Homo sapiens: one gene and its partners. The protein of the gene in region 1 purifies or fractionates together with the protein of each later gene. This does not show direct contact. Each region holds a gene or a part of one and is shown in the gene's direction. Other genes may lie near its edges.

What was found.
Region 2: the proteins of NSG2 (region 1) and TMEM59 purify together in Homo sapiens (affinity purification with mass spectrometry; one large-scale study listed by BioGRID and IntAct). This does not show direct contact.
Region 3: the proteins of NSG2 (region 1) and ASAH1 purify together in Homo sapiens (affinity purification with mass spectrometry; one large-scale study listed by BioGRID and IntAct). This does not show direct contact.
Region 4: the proteins of NSG2 (region 1) and ITFG1 purify together in Homo sapiens (affinity purification with mass spectrometry; one large-scale study listed by BioGRID and IntAct). This does not show direct contact.
Region 5: the proteins of NSG2 (region 1) and DNAJC16 purify together in Homo sapiens (affinity purification with mass spectrometry; one large-scale study listed by BioGRID and IntAct). This does not show direct contact.

What each region holds. Positions count from the first base shown.
Region 1 is NC_000005.10:174,097,706-174,101,205, forward strand, and holds part of NSG2 (neuronal vesicle trafficking-associated protein 2), read left to right. Parts: intron 1-3,500.
Region 2 is NC_000001.11:54,036,205-54,039,704, reverse strand, and holds part of TMEM59 (transmembrane protein 59 isoform 2 precursor), read left to right. Parts: intron 1-2,986; coding exon 2,987-3,095; intron 3,096-3,500.
Region 3 is NC_000008.11:18,057,001-18,060,908, reverse strand, and holds part of ASAH1 (acid ceramidase isoform a preproprotein), read left to right. Parts: intron 1-1,205; coding exon 1,206-1,337; intron 1,338-1,444; coding exon 1,445-1,568; intron 1,569-2,017; coding exon 2,018-2,074; intron 2,075-3,285; coding exon 3,286-3,375; 3' UTR 3,376-3,908. UniProt on the Homo sapiens protein: Lysosomal ceramidase that hydrolyzes sphingolipid ceramides into sphingosine and free fatty acids at acidic pH.
Region 4 is NC_000016.10:47,153,276-47,158,048, reverse strand, and holds the end of ITFG1 (T-cell immunomodulatory protein isoform 1 precursor), read left to right. Parts: intron 1-444; exon of another isoform or gene 445-494; intron 495-2,270; coding exon 2,271-2,330; 3' UTR 2,331-3,658; downstream 3,659-4,773. UniProt on the Homo sapiens protein: Modulator of T-cell function. Has a protective effect in graft versus host disease model.
Region 5 is NC_000001.11:15,528,928-15,534,027, forward strand, and holds part of DNAJC16 (dnaJ homolog subfamily C member 16 isoform 1 precursor), read left to right. Parts: intron 1-160; 5' UTR 161-178; coding exon 179-345; intron 346-5,100. UniProt on the Homo sapiens protein: Plays an important role in regulating the size of autophagosomes during the formation process.

The sequences.
Region 1 (3,500 bases):
TTTGTGTGTGTTTGTCTCTGTGTGTGTCTCTGTGTCTGTGTGTGTGTCTGTGTCTCTGTGTGTGTACCTTTCTCTCAGTGTGTGTGTCTCTGTGTGTGTGTGTAACTGTGTGTGTGAGTGTGTCTCTTTGTGTGTGTCTGTGTGTGTGTGTGTGTGTGTATGAGTGTCTGTGTGTCTGTCTCTCTGGTCTTAATTCAACTCAACACTGCAGGTCAGGAAATGTTTCTGATCCCCACTTTGTATGAGTCACTACTGGGCACAGAGAAAAGGGTGCGACTCGCTTGCTGCCCGAGGCCTTCCCAGCAGAAGGTGGCTGGTAGGCGAGAGGGGTGATGGGGATGCAGTGTGCTCCTATGGAGGAGGAACTGGAGCAGGCCCCAGCTACACAGCAGGGATGGATTAGGGGTTCAGGGCTGGAGCTGAATGCTGAGGAGATGTTCTCCTTGCTGAGGAAAGGCACACAGGGGCTCCAGGCCTGGCCCAAGGCCCAGAGAAGCAACTGCAGGAGCTGTCAGGGTGCTGGGGCTGGAGGGGACAGTGTGAACCAGTGGGGAGAGGTACATGAGACTGGAGGGTGGTTGAGGGGGTGCAGGCTGAGCAAAGATGTTACCCCGACAGCACCAGGGCTGCCTCTGTGGGGAGCTACTGTCTTGGGCAGGACAAGGGTGATATTGGCCTCCAAAGCCCTAGGGGGCTGGACCCTGCTTTCCTTCCAGCCTCACCTCAGCGTTCTCTCCTTGTCCCCTTCGTCACAGCCAGACTGCTTCTTCCAGGCCCTCTGGAACCTCGAGCTCCTCTTCCTTGTAGGATCTCTGGGCGTCCTAGAATGCTGCAATGCTCTGGCCCGGGGTTGCCTGGAGCCCAGTCCCCTCTCGCTTCCAGGACCACCCCGTCAAAGGGCCCCCCTCGTGTGCTCTGTTCAGACCACATTCAGTGCTTGGTTTGTGGTTATTTCTTTGGTGAATTGCTCATTGAATGTCTCACTCTCTCCCTCCTGTGAACTCCTTGAGGCAATGGCTGTGCACAGCATCCGGCTCACAGTAGGCCCTTTAGTAGACTCTCAGTGAGCGGACGATGAGTGGCTGAGTGAGTGGATGAGGGGAGACGGGTGCAGAGAGGGTGATTCCGTGGTGAGGACTGTGCCTGTAATGAAACCCTCCAATGTAGCGCTGGAGAACTAGCGAGCTGTTTATCGCGAGGCTCAGGTTGTTAAATTCAAGAAGTGAAACCAAGGGCTTTAGAACGTCTCTGAGGATGGAGGTTATATAAACCGAGTCAATAAATATTGATGTGGAGTCCGGCTTTCATGTTCAGAGGTGCTTTGTGGGGAGGTGGGAGTTTCTCTCCCCGACCCTCTTAGGCTCACCCGGCATGGCGGGAGCTTTGTTGCAGGGATCAGGCACGTAGGCCCCTGAATTTCACAAATCCACCAGAAAGGGAGGCCGGGGAGGCTGGGTCCAGCAGGATGCCTCGCAGAACTGAAACCTGCCTGTAGGAAATCTCGCCCTGGAACCAAACCAGGACTCTCCAGCTCCCGCCCCACCCCAGCAACCATTGACAACTGCATCATCCAGAATCCAGAAAGCTCACCAGTGGAACTCGCCGGCCTGAGCCGGCCCTTCCTCCTCTTGTCTCGCAGTGCTGTGCTCACCTCTTATGCCATCTTAGGCCATTGACTCCACCCCACTGCCCCGTCTGGCCTCAGCACCTGGGACACGCCCTACTACATCAGCCTTCCCACTGGCCCCCTTGCCTTCAGCCATCCCCCTGCAAACATGCCTCCTGTTGCCCCCAGAGACATCACTCCAAAACATAATTCTCACCTTGTCGCTTCCCTGCTTAGAACTGTCACTGGCTCCCTGTTGTCCTTGAGATCAAGTCCAAGTGTAATCTGTTCTTTGCCCCCTGCCCAGGCCCCCAGGCTTCCCCATCACTCACACCCCTTGGGCCAGCCATGCCAAGGCCTGTGATGCCTCTAGAACAGCCTGTGTGCTCTCCACGTTCTTTCCAGGGCTGATGCCATTTCCTCTGCTCAGAGCCTTCTTCCCCTCATCCTAATGTTCTTCCATGAAGTCACTTATGATGTCACATCCCCCAGGAGGACGTCCCTGATGCCCCCGCCCCCAGGTTGATTAGGTCCAGCAGCCCCCTGTGCTGATGGCCTCAGTCATGGTGTCACCTCTGCGTTGCAAGTGTCTACACCCATCAGTCCATCTCTTCCTCCCCCTGTAGACTGTGAGGTCTCAAGAAAGAGCCTGTGCCTGATTCACCACAACGTACTCTCTGACCTCCCCAGACTCTTAGGGAATGATTGGCCTTCAGTTGCAGAAGTTACCAAAATTCAGGACAGGGAGGCAAACTCTCCTTCAGCTAAGACAGCCTCCATTGAGCCTAATTCTGGGGTCATGGAGCATGTGGGGTGGCCTGGCAGAAGTTAGCCCTGCTTGGGCAGAATCCCATGGGCTGGGCTGCACCCGTAGCAACCAGTCAGCATTAGACCCTTGACTCTGACAGTCACGGAGGACACCCCAGCAAGTGTCAGCACACAGGACTGCTTGCATGTGGGGAACCACGTGGGGGCTTCGAAACATGCTGAGGCCTGGACTGCACCCCCAGAGATTCTGGTGTAGTTGGTTTGAGATAGGGCTAGAGCTCCAGGATCATTTGAAACGTTTGAATCCCAGGGGATTCTAACATGTGCAGCTGCTTGAGAACCACTCACAGCTAGTCCTACTAGAGCAGCGCTTCTCTTCCTGGTTACACACGGTAATTACCTGGACAGCCTTGTCCTGGACCCATGGAATTAGAATCCATGGGGGTGGTGACAACCTAGGCATCAGCATTTCCGAGCTCCTCAGCTGCTTCTAATGTGAAGCAGGGTTTGAAACCACTACCTCCAACGTACCTCCCTCCCTCCCTTTTCTTTTTCCAGAAGCATTTGCTGGAGGCCTGCTCTGTGCTCGTGCTCTCTAGCCCTGGTGGTGCTTTGGTGAATCAGCCCCTGCAGTTCCTATTTGGGATTTCTTAACTCAGGGGACGTTAGCAGTGGAAGAGCTCACCCTGTAAAGGGAACCTGTCCCACAGGCAGGCTTGCTGGGTCCTGCACCAGCTCCTAGTGCCCCTTTACTAACCTGCTGTTGGCCAGGGGCCTTATCCAGCCCTGTCTGGGCACGTCCATACCCATGTTGGGAGGTCTTGCCCAGCTCCTGAGTCTCTCAAGAGGCCTGGGACTCTGCCTAGGCAAGGTTTGGGGTTGCACATGGTCATTGGGATGGGAAGCTTTCCAGCAGCTCCCTCAGACCCTGCATCAGGCTGGAGGCAATGGCAGGCTGGGGCTGAGGCTCTGAACTCCCTCCTGAGCATGCACGAGCTCGACAGCTGCACTGTAGTCTGTGGATGAGCCTGCGACTATAGGCAACTCTCTTGGCTGGGCCCAGGTGTGTTCTCTTTGAGGGGAGGGGATGCCAGCAGGATTTTAATATCCCTTTAACAGAAAGGGT
Region 2 (3,500 bases), on another chromosome or scaffold:
TGTTCATTCTAGTGGACTGTTCTATCTCAAGTATAAAACTGCAGTAGTCCAAATCACATGCTCCCTGTAATTTCTTATAGAAACAGTTTCTTGAGAGGTTTTATCATATATCATTACAATTATGTGGACCTTACAAATTAATACTTTTTACTAAGCAAAATGTTTAAAGACTATGTGAGAAAACAAGGATTAAACTTTAAATTTTATCCTTCGTTCATTTCTAAACCTGGTTTTGAGCTTGTCCAAAAAAGGGCAGTTTTTCTTTCCAGTATTTAGGATGTATGTTGCAGTTTGATAGTTCTGTGAAACCTAAATAATTATTTAATCTTAAGTTACAGTTCTCAGTACTGTACTACCTGGCATATTATTGGTGATTTATTGACCTTTAACATTTTGTCATTATATGTTATGTTGTTTTTTTACATCTAACACTTTAAAAGTAATTTTGTGAAGCAACTAACTTTATAATGTATTTATAGAAATGTATTTCTTAGAAGTTTCTGTGCCCAAACATAAATTATAATAGGATCCTACATTTGAATAAAAATTATTCTTTTGGCCGAGTGCGGTGGCTCATGCATGTAATCCCAGCACTTTGGAAGGCCAAGGTGGGAGGATCACTTGAGCCCAGAAGTTCAAGATCAGCTTGGGTAACATAGTGAGACCCCATCCATCTCTACAAAAAATAAAAAAATTAGCTGGACATGGTGGCACACACCTGTAGTCCCAGTTGTCAAGAGGCTGAGGTGGGAGAATCACTTGAACCCAGGAGGTTGAGACTGCAGTGAGCTGTGATCGTGCCATTGCACTGCCTGAGTGACAAAGCGAGACTGTCTCAAATTTTATTATTTTTTTAAGTGTTCTTTTTTTAAATGCTTTTTCCCCTTCAGTGATCCCATTTGACTTTTAGAACAATACCCTGTGATAAGTAGGTGGTGATTTAGAGAGGTGAATTGACTACTCGCAAGGTTATACAGTCACTATGTTAGCATTCAAACCTAATTTTTCTAACTGTACATCTTCTGCTCATCCTATTCTGCTGTAACTATTTACTTCCTAAAGTGTCATGATTTTTCCATGATTACATACAGAATCACTCAGCCAGTTATTGGAATCTGGTCGTAGCTGTTAAAGAGACACCCTTGTCTCCAGAATGGAAATTGAGGTCACTCTTTCTTCACTTGCATTTCTTTTTGAGGAGCCAGGCACTGTGCTAGGGAGTTGAGACCTAGTAAAGATGTCAGGAGTTCTCAGATCTAAACAGACATGGACAATAATGATTGCTATACACACACACAGTCCTACACATGTCTCATACACAGCATATAAGGACTGTATTTAAGTCTACTGGAGGTTTCAAGGGGAGGATTGACAGGTGAGATAGAAATATCTCAAGTGATGAGTAGAAATTTTTGCTAGTTATAGCAGAAGATTTACTTAAAATTTTTTTTTCAGATATACTGGCCTCCTGCTCAATGTGTATAGGGTACATTACTATATATGGAGGATAAGGAGAGTCAGAAATTTGACTGAACTGGGAAAACAGGAATAGAGAGAATCAGGAACATAAGTGTCAAGAAGAGGCTTCTATGTGAAGGATAGATTAGAGGACCAGGTTGGAGAACTTTGGTAAATCAGGGAAGAAATTATGAGGTCTGGATTAGGGCAGTAGATAAGAACAGGAGATAATGGAGATAGTTGAAAATCTGTAGGATCTAGTCATTGTTTTGTTGTGGAGATTGAAGGGATGAGCCCCAGTTTTCTGGCTTAGGTAGTTGCTACTGGAATCTAGATATCAAATATATCCTCATTTTGTGGTAAATTCCTTAGTACTCAGGTTACTTAGGGCTGGAACATGGAGAGGAAAGTGGGTATTTGTTCATTAAAAACATATTTTACTCTATTATCTTTCTAAATTGGATACTTAAAGAATCATATGGGAGTTCCCTGCTTTTAGATACAATACATTCTCCAAAGTCCACCTCTTTTGCTGGCAGACAAACAATGACTGTGCTTACTGCATGTTCAAGTCTTGGCAAACTATCAAGTGAGTGATTAGGGTGGTAAGTATAGATCTCTTACTAGGCAGTGTTGGATGAGCAGAGATGTGAAAATTAGGGAGTATCTGTATTACACAGTTTGTCAGAGTTAGACTTTTAATTATTTAAAAATGGCTTGACTTTTTCCTATTCTTTGAATCTTAATAGGTCAATTATGAAAAAAACTCCAGGTGGGAGAATGGCTTGCGCCCATGAGTTCAAGGCCAGCCTGGGCAATATAGTGAGAGCTTGTCTCTATAAAAATTCAAAATAAATAAAAATAAATAAAAAATCTCTAATTGCTGATTCTCATAACTGGCCTTCTGTCTTAAGATATTTTAATTATAAGGAAAATATAACTATCTCTTTACTGAGATATGCTGTAATGGTTACAGAATGCCTTATAATAGCTGTGCTTTTTTAAATTGAAGTATAAGTAAATTATGGCAAATTGAATATGTAAAGTATTCTAGGGAAACTGACTTCTGGAAGCCTGGTGTGAATTCTTTTATAAAACAAATGATCATTTTAAATTTACCTATTCTATACCTTAACTTTTTGGTATATTGGTTTTCTTAAAGCAAGTATCGTAATAACTTGCAAAATAATATATGACATTTGTACAACAGTGTACAATTTACAGGACACTTTCACTTGCCTTATATATTTAGCAGAAAGTCAAGTATATCTGATTTTATTATTATTACAAAAGTGATATAGCCATGTTACAGAAACATTAGAAGTGGAGGAAAAAGACTTTATGCCAACCTAATGTAATAGCTATTAGTATAATATTTCCTTCTGTAAGTATGTTTTTTAATAGTTTCAAAGATAACCAACAAAGTTTTAATTGTACTGTTGAGCTAAGTACATAAGGTTGACTAATTAAGAATTTCCTGTTTCTTATAAAATTTTAATATAACTAATTGTTGATTTTTTTTTTCCAGTAACTCTGGGTGGATTTTAACTACAACTCTTGTCCTCTCGGTGATGGTATTGCTTTGGATTTGTTGTGCAACTGTTGCTACAGCTGTGGAGCAGTATGTTCCCTCTGAGGTAAATTTAATTCTTACCATTTGAAGACTGAGCCCTGTGATATATCATTTTAAACACCTTATTTGTTTAGCTGGAAAAACAAGGCCTTTCTACTAATAGAAAGAGAGAAGATGTGGTGGTTTTAATGTGGTAGAGGTTGGCACACATAAAAATTACAGGTTTGCAGCACAAGAATTGTTGTTCTCAGCTTTCTGTGATGCTAACTACCGTGGTGACATATATGTTGACTGGCTTGAGAACGGTGTCTCTTTCTGACTCTCTAAGACTGAAAAGACCTGTTGACATCAGTTTCTAGGGGATATATGGGAAAGAAGACTTTTTTTTTTTTTGAGGCAGAGTCTCATCTGTCACCCAGGCTAGAGTGCAGTGGCCAGGATCTTGGCTCACTGCAACCTCTGCTTCCTA
Region 3 (3,908 bases), on another chromosome or scaffold:
TGGTGACACGTGCCTGCCTGTAGTCCCAGCTACTCAGGAGGCTGAGGTGGGAGGATCACCTGAGCCCAAGGAGGTCGAGACTGCAGTGAGCTGGGATCAGTCCACTGCACTTCACCCTGAGTGATAGAGTGAGACTCTGTCTTAAAAAAACAAAATAAATAAATACAAAATGTACTACATATTAACCTGTAAGTTATATCTTGCCTTGGTATAGAAATCTTACAATAGCAAAACTGCCTTTCCTTCATTCAGCCAGCACTGCGTCCAAATAAATGGGCATCAATCCTATTTTTAATACTTCCCAGGGAATAAGATTTAATGTTAGTAGTGTTCTTTGATAACCCACTTCAATTTTTAATAGTCCTAATTTTCAAGAAGGTTTACTTTCTGTTCTCTAAGTCCTACATACTGTAATATTATTTCCCTTTGTTCTGTTGTTGAGTGAAAGGCATGGACAGTAAGGGTGGAAGATGATCTCTTGAGGCCACTTTGTTTCTCCTTCAGATTAGAGGGGCTTCCTAAGATTCCCGCTTCCCATCTCAGTGTTCACCATACAGGGTCAGGGATTGCTTTTCCCAGAGGCATTGCTCACCATCCTTTTTTAGAAAACACATTGTGGCTGGCCATGGTGGCTCATGCCTGTAATCCCAGTACTTTGGGAGGCGAAGGCAAGAGTATCGCTTGTGCCAAGGAGTTCGAGACCAGCCTGGGCAACAGAGTGAGAGCCCATCTCTAAAAATAGAAATAAATAAATAACACATTCCTTAGATACTTGTTTTTCTTTAGTTTCTACAGAGCTAAACATTTCCGTTCTAAGTCATCTAAAAATGTTTCCCACCATCATCCTCAGCAAACTAACACAGGAACAGAAAACCGAACACTGCATGTTCTCACTCATAAGTGAGAGCTGAACAAAGAGAACACGTGAACACAGGGAGGGGAACATCACGCACCAGGGCCTGTCAGGGGGTGGGGTGAAAGGGGAGGGAGAGCATTAGGACAAATACCTAATGCATGTAGGGCTTGAAACTTAGATGATGGGTTGATGGGTGCAGCAAACCACCATGGCACGTGTGTACCTATGTAACAAACCTGCACGTTCAGCACATGTGTCCCAGAACTTAAAGTAAAATTTAAAAATAAATGAAGTTATTTACTAAAATTAAAAAAAAGTTTCATTTTTCTTTTTAAATGTTTCTATATAGTTATGAAGAAGCCAAGAATTTATTGACCAAGACCAAGATATTGGCCCCAGCCTACTTTATCCTGGGAGGCAACCAGTCTGGGGAAGGTTGTGTGATTACACGAGACAGAAAGGAATCATTGGATGTATATGAGTAAGTAGGTTTGTTAAAGCAAAAGAAGTAGAAACAAAAGCATACACTGATATACTTTGAGTTTTAAGGCATGTAGCCTAAGAGGGAATCTCTCCTTTTGTATCTAGACTCGATGCTAAGCAGGGTAGATGGTATGTGGTACAAACAAATTATGACCGTTGGAAACATCCCTTCTTCCTTGATGATCGCAGAACGCCTGCAAAGATGTGTCTGAACCGCACCAGCCAAGAGGTACCTTTGCAGGGTCATCTATAGAAAGAAACTGTTGCCATTAAAGATTCCCTTGGTTCTGGCATTTTTCTTTGGCCTTCAAGTAATTTATAAACGTCCTATTTTTCATAGTATCTCTAGCCACTCTCCACTGATTTTTTTGTTTCGTTTTCTTAACTTAAAGAGCAAAATTGTGCTGTACTTTCCTTTTCTGGTTCTAATGCTGGATACCACTCTGAAGTTGAATAACAAACAGGCAAGAATTTAAAAAAGGGGAAGGAGAGAGAGGAAAGTAATCCATTAAAACTGTTACCTGTGTTTCTAACAGTGACTCCCACAGAAACTCCACTGCGGGGATGGAGGGGAGGTTGATTAAAGAATGTCTTGGTTTCTGGTGGCCCATGTGTGTAGATAAGGCTGTTGGCTTCTGTATTTAACTTACTGAACAAAACTATTTTCTTGTGTTTTAGAATATCTCATTTGAAACCATGTATGATGTCCTGTCAACAAAACCTGTCCTCAACAAGGTATTTTAAATGTTATATGTATATTTGCCTTTTAGGGAAAGAATTTGGCCCTATGTTTTATCTTTCTCTGTTATCTTTGATCAGTTTGAGCACAAAAGGTGTGTTCAGCTTAGGACTGATTTTTTATTAAAAAATGTTTTTGTGTGGCTAAAACTGTATTTTGGAATACAAGAAAGAAATTGATCACTGAGGCTTGATAGGTCAGAATATTGTTTATAGCTTTATTTACATAGCATTTGAATTAAGGCTAGCATTTTACTCTTATTGGTATCTATTAAAAATCTCACACTATATAACTAACACCTAAATGTCAACAAAACAAAGTCTGCAGTCCATTTTCAGACAGAGCTCTGTGTCTTGGTGGGTTCGGGTTTCCCTTAAACTTTACTACATCTGTTTATCTTTTCCCTACACTGTAGTTTTAAAAAAATGCAAAAAGTTTCCTATCATCCCACCACTCGCTAACAATCATTCCCTGAACGTTCTGAATATGCCCCCCTAATTTTCCCATTTGTTCCTTCTTTTCTTGGTCCTTCTCCACAGCTCTCCCTAAAGTAAACATGCCGCCTTTACCCTGCCAGGACAAATCCCTCCGGCCTTTAGCATCCAGGTCACCCTGGCTCTCACAGGAAGCCTGCCTTCAGTTCACGGGCCCTGCCATACTTGCGTTTTGCCTATACCATCTTTGAGCAAGTCACAATCTCGTGACTTGTGTTTGGGTGTGTGCCTTGTGATCTGGGTGCCTGCAGTTTCCCCCACTGTATTGGAAATGCTTTAAGGATAGGGATAGCCAAAGCTCCACGGTTTTTACTCCATAGGACACCGGCAGGTCTCCCAGGACTGCCAGCTGTGCGTCAAGGAGGGTTAAGGCAGTCTTAAAGCATTGGGGGTGGAGCAATGTGCTGTCAGGAATAAGCTCCTATAAGGAGCTGGAGATTCTTTCCTGAGCCTGTTTATATTCATTACCTGAAACAGTGATCCTGTTGAAGTTGTTTGCTTTAGTTATTTGGTGAGACTTTAGCTAATTTTATATGATTATACTATATTAATATAAATATATACATTATATAACATGCTTTGCATATATTAAGTTATATTATTTAATATTAAATAACTTCTAAAGCAAATTCTACAAGTATAGAAATGCTAATATATATCAGAACATCTCTGAATTGAAAACGTCCTTAAAGTAAAAATAACTTTTCTTTCAGCTGACCGTATACACAACCTTGATAGATGTTACCAAAGGTCAATTCGAAACTTACCTGCGGGACTGCCCTGACCCTTGTATAGGTTGGTGAGCACACGTCTGGCCTACAGAATGCGGCCTCTGAGACATGAAGACACCATCTCCATGTGACCGAACACTGCAGCTGTCTGACCTTCCAAAGACTAAGACTCGCGGCAGGTTCTCTTTGAGTCAATAGCTTGTCTTCGTCCATCTGTTGACAAATGACAGATCTTTTTTTTTTCCCCCTATCAGTTGATTTTTCTTATTTACAGATAACTTCTTTAGGGGAAGTAAAACAGTCATCTAGAATTCACTGAGTTTTGTTTCACTTTGACATTTGGGGATCTGGTGGGCAGTCGAACCATGGTGAACTCCACCTCCGTGGAATAAATGGAGATTCAGCGTGGGTGTTGAATCCAGCACGTCTGTGTGAGTAACGGGACAGTAAACACTCCACATTCTTCAGTTTTTCACTTCTACCTACATATTTGTATGTTTTTCTGTATAACAGCCTTTTCCTTCTGGTTCTAACTGCTGTTAAAATTAATATATCATTATCTTTGCTGTTATTGACAGCGATATAATTTTATTACATATGATTAG
Region 4 (4,773 bases), on another chromosome or scaffold:
TTCTGTTCTTTAGTATAATACTCTAAATAATAATTGAAAACAAAACTCCCAAATATGTAAAAGATTTTTATGCAAAGAAAAAAGAGGCTATCACTGTAAATTAGCAGTTTAGATATATGTGAAAAAGCTAGTTTCTATTTATATATGGGTTCCAATCAATGCCCTCAAAAAAGGGCTGCTTTGTGGCCCCAAAGAAAGGTGTTTTTCTTTTTTTGCACCTACACTCTGGATTGACATGCCATCATAATCATTTTTTGCTAGAATTACCGTGTTTGTTCTTTTAACATATGAAAAAGAACATATTAGTTGTTCTATAAATGCTCATAGGCTTGTCACTTTTAAAAAATCACTCCTTTACATATCAAAAACAGTAACATGAAGTTACATATTCAATTAACCTTAAGATTGCAACTTAAGAGTAAGATCAAGGACAACCATACATACTTGGTCCAGAAGTATCAGAATATCATCTGAAAGATTCCACAGTTCTTGACCTGTGAAGCAAAGGAAATGAATTTCATTAATTCCTCAGTAGATCTGATTACAGCATAAACATTGCGTGCTTATAACAATAATTATGCAGTGGCCAAAAATGAAAGTTTTAAGTACAAGTATATATTTGACTATATATATACTGTATCTCCTGTGGCACTGTGGTATCTCAAAGAGGTAGAACCTCTTTAACCACTTTTTTACTTAAGCAGGCTGGCTCCTTCTACCATTTTCTCAATGCAGGCTTTCCCCAGTGTCTGCCCCTGGCCCTCTTCTTTCAACACTTTCCCTGCCAATTTCATCTAAAATCATGGCTTCAGATATCCCCAGCTCTCATCTCTAAAGGTCCTTCCCCATTTCCAACTGTCACCATGATAGCTCAACCTAGATGACTTACAGCACCTCAAAACCAGCATTCTAAAGCTTCATCTCTCTTACTTAACCTACAAGATTTCATCACTTGCCTATGGACTCTGCCTCTGTAAGAAGTTCTACAGCTGACTCCACTTCTACATTCCTACTGCACTGCCCCTTCTTACATCCTACTTGGTCTCTTTCTTTCCGTTCTCTCCCCTTTCCATTCTCTCCCCTTTCCATTCCATTTAGCACACTGCTGCCAGTGATTCATTCTGTTTAGCCTTCATCATGTCACTCCCCTGCTGAAAAAGCTCTAGTGAATATCCATTGCCTTTTATGTATAAAATCCTTGGCCTGGCCTGCATATGACTTCCATGTGACTCCACAGTCGTATTTTTTACCAGTTGCTTTCACATATCCGTGCTCCTTCCAGCCTTCTCATGATTGATCATGTTGTAACCCCAGCTTGGAGTGAATACCACTCTCCCCATTTCCATACTTTCAAATGCTTTCCCTGTCTTTTCAAAGCTTTCCCTTTCCTCACCCGGATCTAGAAGTAGTCTCTTAGACTTGGTAACATTTTTCACTTTTTATCTTGAACTACAGTTATACAATATGTTTTGCATTTGTCTTTTTGGAGAACAAGATACAAAACGGAGGTTTTTTTAATATTAAAATAGCAAACACAGTATTGGTATTGGGAGTATTAGAAGCAAAGGGCCAATGAATATCTGCTAAATTGACAAGTTAATGAAAAAATAATTAGTACATTAGTACTCTGTCACCCAGGCTGGAGTGCAGTGGTGCAATCTTGACTCACCGCAACTTCCGCTCCTGGGTTCAAGCGATTCTCCTGCCTTAGCCTCCCAAGAAGCTGTGATTACAGGTGCCCACCACCACACTCAGCTAATTTTTGTATTTTTTTGGTAGAGACGGGGTTTCACCATGTTGGCCAGGCTGGTCTCGAATTCCTCACCTCAAGTTATCTGCCCTCCTTGGCCTCCCAAAATGCTGGGATTACAGGCATGAGCCACCACCACACCCAGCCATTAGATTTGTTTATTAACATCATTGTTAAAAATGACAGAAAAATGCAATCATTGATTCATCCTTATAGAATCTAATACTTATTCCTATTTTCAAGTAGATAATAAATGATAAGAAGCTAAGTATTTAAGGACCCTAAGTATTTAATGTGCCTTAAGTATTCAAGTATTTATTGTTTTTTAATCAATTAGATCATTAATTATAAAATAGCTACTATAAACTACAAAAATACTAGGACTGTTGAATTAGGAAATCATATCTATTATCTGCTAATTGCTGGAGACTTTTAAAAATGAATCACTGTGTATTTCAGAAATGAGTCTTTTCATAACATCTTTCTACCATTTATAAACGAGTCTAAAATTCTTTTTCAGAAAGCAGATGATAGAGAAAAACGACAAGAAGCCCACCGGTTTCATTTTGATGCTATGTGACTTGCCTTTAATATTACATAATGGAATGGCTGTTCACTTGATTAGTTGAAACACAAATTCTGGCTTGAAAAAATAGGGGAGATTAAATATTATTTATAAATGATGTATCCCATGGTAATTATTGGAAAGTATTCAAATAAATATGGTTTGAATATGTCACAAGGTCTTTTTTTTTAAAGCACTTTGTATATAAAAATTTGGGTTCTCTATTCTGTAGTGCTGTACATTTTTGTTCCTTTGTGGAATGTGTTGCATGTACTCCAGTGTTTGTGTATTTATAATCTTATTTGCATCATGATGATGGAAAAAGTTGTGTAAATAAAAATAATTAAATGAGCAGGAATTTTTGTGTCCACTTGACTTGGTCTTGCTTCTTATTCTAATGATGCAAATTATACTTTTGTGAATATATCACGGAGTCATTAGGCATTCAGCTTCATCACAGCAGGTCAGGGGTCTCACTGATGGCATACAATATAGTGATCGGGTACTCTGACTTGGTAGCACAGTAAGACAGACTTGCCTTAAACTCCTAATTCAACCACTTACAAAGTCATTGTTTGAACTTGGCTCTTGTTTAACCTCTGTAAACCTCAGTTTTCTTGTTTATTCAGTGGGGCTAATACTTGAGTTACTGTAAACATTAAATGGGATGATGTATGTGAAGTGCTTAGCTTGGTGCCTAGCACAGAGTAAGTGGTCAATATGTGGTAGTTGTCATTATTAATATTTTAGATGATCTTATTAGACTTATACATCTAATTATAGAAATACATAGACTTGATAGAATTTTATTTTCAGGCATGAAGAAATATTCTTTGGAAAAGCTAAATTTTTGGTGATTGACATAAAGATTTACTTGCTCATATTAACTAAAAATTATAGTACTCTCCAAGAATTAATGTGCCCTAAAAATTTTCCTCCAAAAACTTATCCTTATCATGTGATAATGAAGAACATTTGATTTCTTGAAAGGAAACTGCTGTAGGCAGCATCTGGGAATGCAAATCTTCAATCACATTTCTATTCTCAAACACTTGGAGAAGTCTATAATTTACATTCAGACTTCAATGCAAATTTTGTATTGTGAACTTCACATTTCCAAAAAGTTACTTTAAAAAGACTTTAAGACTGAAAAAAAAAAGTTTATCAATGCTAATAATTTTCTAGTATGCAAATGGACATGTGATGCCTATAAAACACAAAAATTTCTCTGAAAACAATTTTGTTCTTATTTTTTTCTTTATAGTTCACTGAGATTGGCATGTGTTTTTACTTTGTATCTAAGCATGTTAACATGTCTTCTTAATAAATATTCCTTATTGAAACAAAGTATTTCAGTGAGTTTTTAAATAATTATTTTAGAGCATGAAGAGACCTTAGAGCTTATGAAAGCATTTATCTGGACTGGGAGACCAGGGTAAGGTGACTTGCCCACTGCCTCTCTGTGGGTCACGGGCAAGATAGGATTCTCCTGACTGTAATACTCAGTTAAATTCACTAGTTATCAGCCCACAGCACTGTCCCAGGCACTACGTGACACTTTCTCAAAGATAATTGGGATCATTATTGATATAGCCTGAGTCTTCAAACTCATGTGAATCAGAGTTTACAAGACAAATAAAATGTTAATGACAATTAAAACTACAATCAGTGACATTAATACTGCTTCTGTATTTCCAAATGCAACTTTAATATCATTTATTAAGGGACAGCAGGTAAAAAATGTATCACAACATTGAGAATCACTAACAAAAACCTTTGTTTTGATTTTGAATATTGCAGTGGAAAGAGAGCAAGGCTTTGAAGTCAGACCAGTCTGGATTCAGGGCCCAGCTCCCCGATTTCATGACTCTGAATCAGTCACTTCTTTGAACTTTGGTTTCTTCATCTGTAAAACAAAGGTAATGAGTGATACCTACCTTCAAGGACTGCTCTGAGTCTGAAATGGCAGTTTGTACACAGAAGATGCTTGATAAGTGCTGTTTTTCTTCCTTCCCATTTCCCATGACAGTGACAAACTAACAGTTATTTTCTGAGATTTCTTTCCCACTGACTATATGTTAGTGTTATCCATCCTTGGGGAGCTAGGAAGAGTAATTAAGAATTCATAATCATTTTGAAGATACTGTAAATATGTTAATACACCATTTATTTGAACTAGCCCTTTACATTTCCCCATCCTTGCAAGTAGCTAGAATACCTCATAAAAAGAAACAAAAACTTAAATCATGTCCCGCAGACCTCAATGGTATACCTGGGATTGATCTAGGATACTTAAGGGCTTACTCCTCAGGATAAAGGTGAATTAAAACCAGCCCTTGTGATTACCTGCACCTGACCAGTTATTTTAAAAGGCTAATTAAATAGACAGTAGATTAGGCAGTGCTTTTGATCCACAACCGTACAAGGGAAAGGAAGGAAACAAAATTAGGCAGAAAAA
Region 5 (5,100 bases), on another chromosome or scaffold:
AGATTTTTATTTTAAGATACAGTTCAACAGCTTGACACTTTTCCTGCAAAATACCTTTTGTTGGTTTTGTTTTTCATCTATATATCTTATACCTTTACCTAAAAAGCAAGACTGTCCAGGTTTCTGCCACTGAAACTCATTGCCTCTTCAATCATTTCAGCTCTGGAAAGGAAGAGAAATGGAAGTGAGAAAGTTGAGCATTTCCTGGCAGTTCTTGATAGTTCTGGTTCTGATCCTGCAAATTCTGTCTGCGTTGGATTTTGACCCATACAGAGTCCTAGGGGTCAGCCGAACAGCCAGTCAGGCTGATATTAAAAAGGCTTATAAGAAGCTCGCCCGGGAATGGTAGGTGAAACAAAGAAATAGAGGTTTAACATAAGCTAAACAGTCTTAGCAGGGATGAAGTCTAAATTATGACTAGCTTTTATTTGTCTCTGTTTCTATGTTCAATATATATATCTGTCTAAAATATTTTACGCAGGAGAGCTAATGTTCATGTTCTATAATTGTTAGCGATAAGATCCAAAGCCTATGTTTACTCTGAAACTCCCTTTTAGGAATACTTTGGCTTAAAGAATTGCCTTAGATACTGTTAGCATATTTAATGTTAAAGTAACAAGTTTTAATTTTAAAAAAATGTATATATAGTCAATAATGGATATGCTACCCTTCCCATGATACATTATTCATAAAGTAACTTTATGAGTGTAATTGCTAAACAGGAACACTATACAACCCTATTCTCTAAATTATTAATTTCTACACTTTGAAAAAAAGTTAAGAGTAATAGCCTTTTGCCTCCAAAAAAAAAAATTCAGAAACCAAGGATAGTTGTCTCTTGATATCCATGAGGTCTTGGTTCCAGGATCCCCAGAAATACCAAAGTCATTGGATGCTCAAGTCCCTATATAAAATAGCATAGTATTTGCATATAATCTATGCACGTCCTCTCATATACTTTAAATCATCTCTAGCTTACTTATAATACCTAATACAATGTAACTGCTGTGCAAATGGTTGTTATACTGTTATTGTTTAAGGAATAATGACAAGAAAAAAGTCTGTACATGTTCAGTACAATGCAATTTTTTAAAAATATTTTTGAATATTTCAAAATAGAAAATATTATATTTTGGTTGGTGGAATCCATGGATGTGAAACCAACAGATATAGAGGGCTGACTATATATTACTCAAAAAAAAAAATTGGCCTGGCATGGTGGCTCATGTTTGTAATCCCAGCACTTTGGGAGGCTGAGGTGGGAGGATCGTTTGAGCCCAGGAGTTTGAGACCAGCCTGGGCAACATAGTGACACCTCATCACTATGGAAAAAAAAAAAAAGCCCAGAAGTTTGAGGCTGAAGTGAGCTATAATCACACCACTGCACTCCAGCCTGGGCAACAGAGTGAGACCCGTCTCAAAAAAAAAAACTTACAGAAAATTGTAATTTTGCCTGTAGTTATCAGGATAGCAATTAGCAGGGTAGCAATAAATCTAAAACTTTGGACAAATATCATCAGTTTCTTCCACCAATGCCTTGGCCATGCCAAAGAAGCAGAAGTGTTGGATTATATAGATGGAGGGGGAGCAGCAGAAGGAGGAAAGGACAGAGGTGACTCCAAGCTGGCTGTACCAACCATGAGGAATGGAAGAAAGTTTGGGACAGGTACCATCACTGAGCACCTACTACATGCTAATCTCCTGGTTCTATACTTTTTATCTCATTTAAACCTTATAATGAGCCTATGAAGGAGGATATCAGTATCTCTTTTTTTTTTGAGACGGAGTCTCGCTCTGTCACGCAGGCTGGAATGCAGTGGCACAATCTTGGCTCACTGTAACCTCCGCTTCCTGGGTTCAAGGGATTCTCCTGACTCAGCCTCCCAAGTAGCTGGGACTACAGGCGTGCACCACCACACCCAGCTAATTGTTGTATTTCTAGTAGAGACGGGGTTTTGCCATATTGGCCAGGCTGGTCTCAGACTCCTGACCTCAAGTGATCCGTCCACCTCGGCCTCCCAAAGTGCTGGGATTACAGACGTGAGCTACCATGCTCGGCCAGTGTCTCTGTTTTATAGATGAGAAGATGGAGGCTTAGAGTTGGTAAATCTGTGGTACCTCTGGGTTCCGTAGTTTGACCCTCTGCATCAGTAGTCCATTGCTTTATTGTTTTTTAATCATTTACACATCTAGGCATGAGTAAGGGTGAGTGGGCTAATGGTTGGCTGGGGAGGAGCTGAATGCGAGTAGGAAGTTATCCAGAAGCAAAACTGCCACATTGAGGTGATGCATGGTACAGACTGCATGCGTGACTGCGCCTGACACTGTTCTGCTTCAGTGAACAGGTATATTTTAGCATTAAACTGGTTGAAATAAAGGTAAAGATCATTGAAAATATATTTTTAAAATAAATGTTTTAGACCATATTCCATGAGAAATCCAGAATTGGATGCCAAAGAAGCAATCTCTAATTATACATGACCTCCTTCCAGGGACTCTTTATACCAAGGTTATGTTCTACATCATTTCAGACTCTTGCCTCTTTATGTTTAAAGCAGGATATATAAATCTGCAGCAAATTCATAAGGTAACAACATTCTTTTGGACAAGGCATAGCCTTTGACAATATTTTAAGAACACAAGTGACAGCTTGAGTATGTGGGACCTATTAAAATGTATAGCTTTGACTTTTCTGTCTTCCAGAGCTGAAAAGGGTGTTATGATATTAATTAAATGAGTCATATTCTTCTCTTTTTTAATTAGATTCTCTCTAGGAATAATTCATCACCATAGAAGTGTATTGAGTGTGTCATCCAGTAAAAGTCTAAAATTTTACTTTACGTTTTTAATTTTGCTCTACTATTATTTTCTGCGGTTTTGGCTATGACAATGCTTTGTCACTTGGAATAGTTTAAGTTTTGCTTACTAATGGCTTGATATACACTGAAAATAGCAGTGTTTCCCAGTTTGACTTTTCAGAATGAGCTATAGCAGGGGGAAGTGGTTACTTGTTGAGTTGGATCTGGAGCCTTCCTCTGATACATTTTACTAAGTGTTTCTTAGACTGCTTAAGAATTTTACTTTGCTTGGTGAAACCATTTGACTTTACTTTTTCCCTTAGGAAAACTATGTTTTTCTCCCAATAATTAAGTTTTATCGTAGGTACTTTTTGTTTGTTATCCACATTAGCAAAAGAAATAACTCCTCCCACCCAAAGAATGGCAGATTGGTGTGACGTGGTTATGCAATAAACTAACAGTAAATTATTTTGTGTAATTCTTTGCTGTATTACCTTCTCTATCTTTGTTTTTATTCCTTTAAGAGGTAACTAGAGAGCCAGTAGATACTACACGCAATATTTCCTCTACTTTGAATTTTAAAGATTGTGTATTATATTGCAGTTCCTGAAATAATTTCATATTAACTGAAAATAGCATTGGACAATACTTTCCTATGGCTGAATTTTTTTTTTTATGTTTTCAACCTTGTGGTGTCTTCCCACAATTAGGAAAGTATTCCGTATGAATACAGCTGAAAGTGCTGTGGTTTCCTCCCTGTTCTTCAGCCTTGCCCTCCTCTGTTTCAGGATCTGTGTTTTCTAACCTAGCTGCCCTCAAGACTCTCTCTTTGGTTCATTCTCCTAAAAAGCCCCTTCCTACCCTTCTTCTACAGAGTTCTATATGTTAAATCTTCATTTGTATGATTGCATAATTTTTGATCCACTCAGTCGTCAGCCTGATGGTTTGGTTGATGGGTTGGTTTTGTTGGTATTTTTGTGTTTTTTTTTGTCATCCAGAAATGCTTTGGAGTCTCCATCTCGTTTCCTTAAGTCATGCTGTTTTCATTATGACTAGCTGAGATTTTTTTCCCCCACTAATACTCATAGCAAGGATTAAATGGTTAAGGAAGGAATGATTTTTAAACTCAGCAGTCAACAATTTGGAGTTTCCTTATTTGTAGAGAAATCAGAATATGTGGTATAATTCATTCAAACACATTCCTGCTAGAATAAATCCATTAAGTTGTAGATTTTTTTTTATTCCAATGTGCTTGGTGTATCGTTAATAGTCATTTGCTTCCCAGTGAATTGTTTTTCTTTCCAGAACCTATGTCAGAGGAAATTTACTAGAAGTTACCAAAAGTGATTATGTAAAGAATACTGTCATACAAAGTCTCTTAAAGTGAACATTGAAAAATCAGTCCATATAAAACACTGATTTAGGTCTTAGGGGCTTTCAAGGAATTAAACCTAGCCCTTACTATCGAGAACTTTAAAATCTCCAAAGCTGGCCGGGTGTGGTAGCTCACACCTGTAATCCCAGCACTTTGGGAGGCCAAGGCAGGAGGATGGCATGAGTCCAGGAATTTGAGACCAGCCTGGACAACATGGCAAAAAATGTTAAACATGTGGCATTGAGGCCGGGCGTGGTGGCTCACGCCTGTATTCCCAACACTTTTGGAGGCCGAGACAGGTGGATCATTTGAGGTCAGGAGTTTGAGACCAGCCCAGCCAACATGGTGAAACCCCATCTCTACTAAAAATACAAAAATTAGCCGGGTGATAGTGGCGCAGGCCTGTAATCCCAGCTACTCGGGAGGCTGAGGCAAGAGAATCGCTTGAGCCTGGGAGGCAGAGGTTGCAGTGCGCCAAGATTGTACCACTGCATTCCAGTCTGGGCAACAGAGTGAGACCCTGTCTCAAAAAAAACAAAAAAACAAAAAAAACAGTGGCCTTGAAATCTTTATCCAGGTAAAAAGCAATCGTAATAATAACGAAAAATGTTCTAATTTGAAAGTCAGGCACAAGTGCAGTTTGAAACCTGATTGTTACTAAATGAATTTAGTCTATCCTAAAAGCTATTTCTCATGTCTACCTGTGTTATCAGAAGAAACAACAGCATTCTAGCATCCTGATATCATTCTAGCATTGGGATGAAACGTTGCCATCCTAGGAGAAGACATGGGTTCTTATGGATAAACGACTTAGCCTTCAGCCAGCTTTAGCAGTGTTTGGGAGCAGTGTACAGACATGCACCATTTCCCACCTTCCTCTGTGAAATGCTGCAGTATTATATGGTGCTTTGAAAACATGCCCTGCTG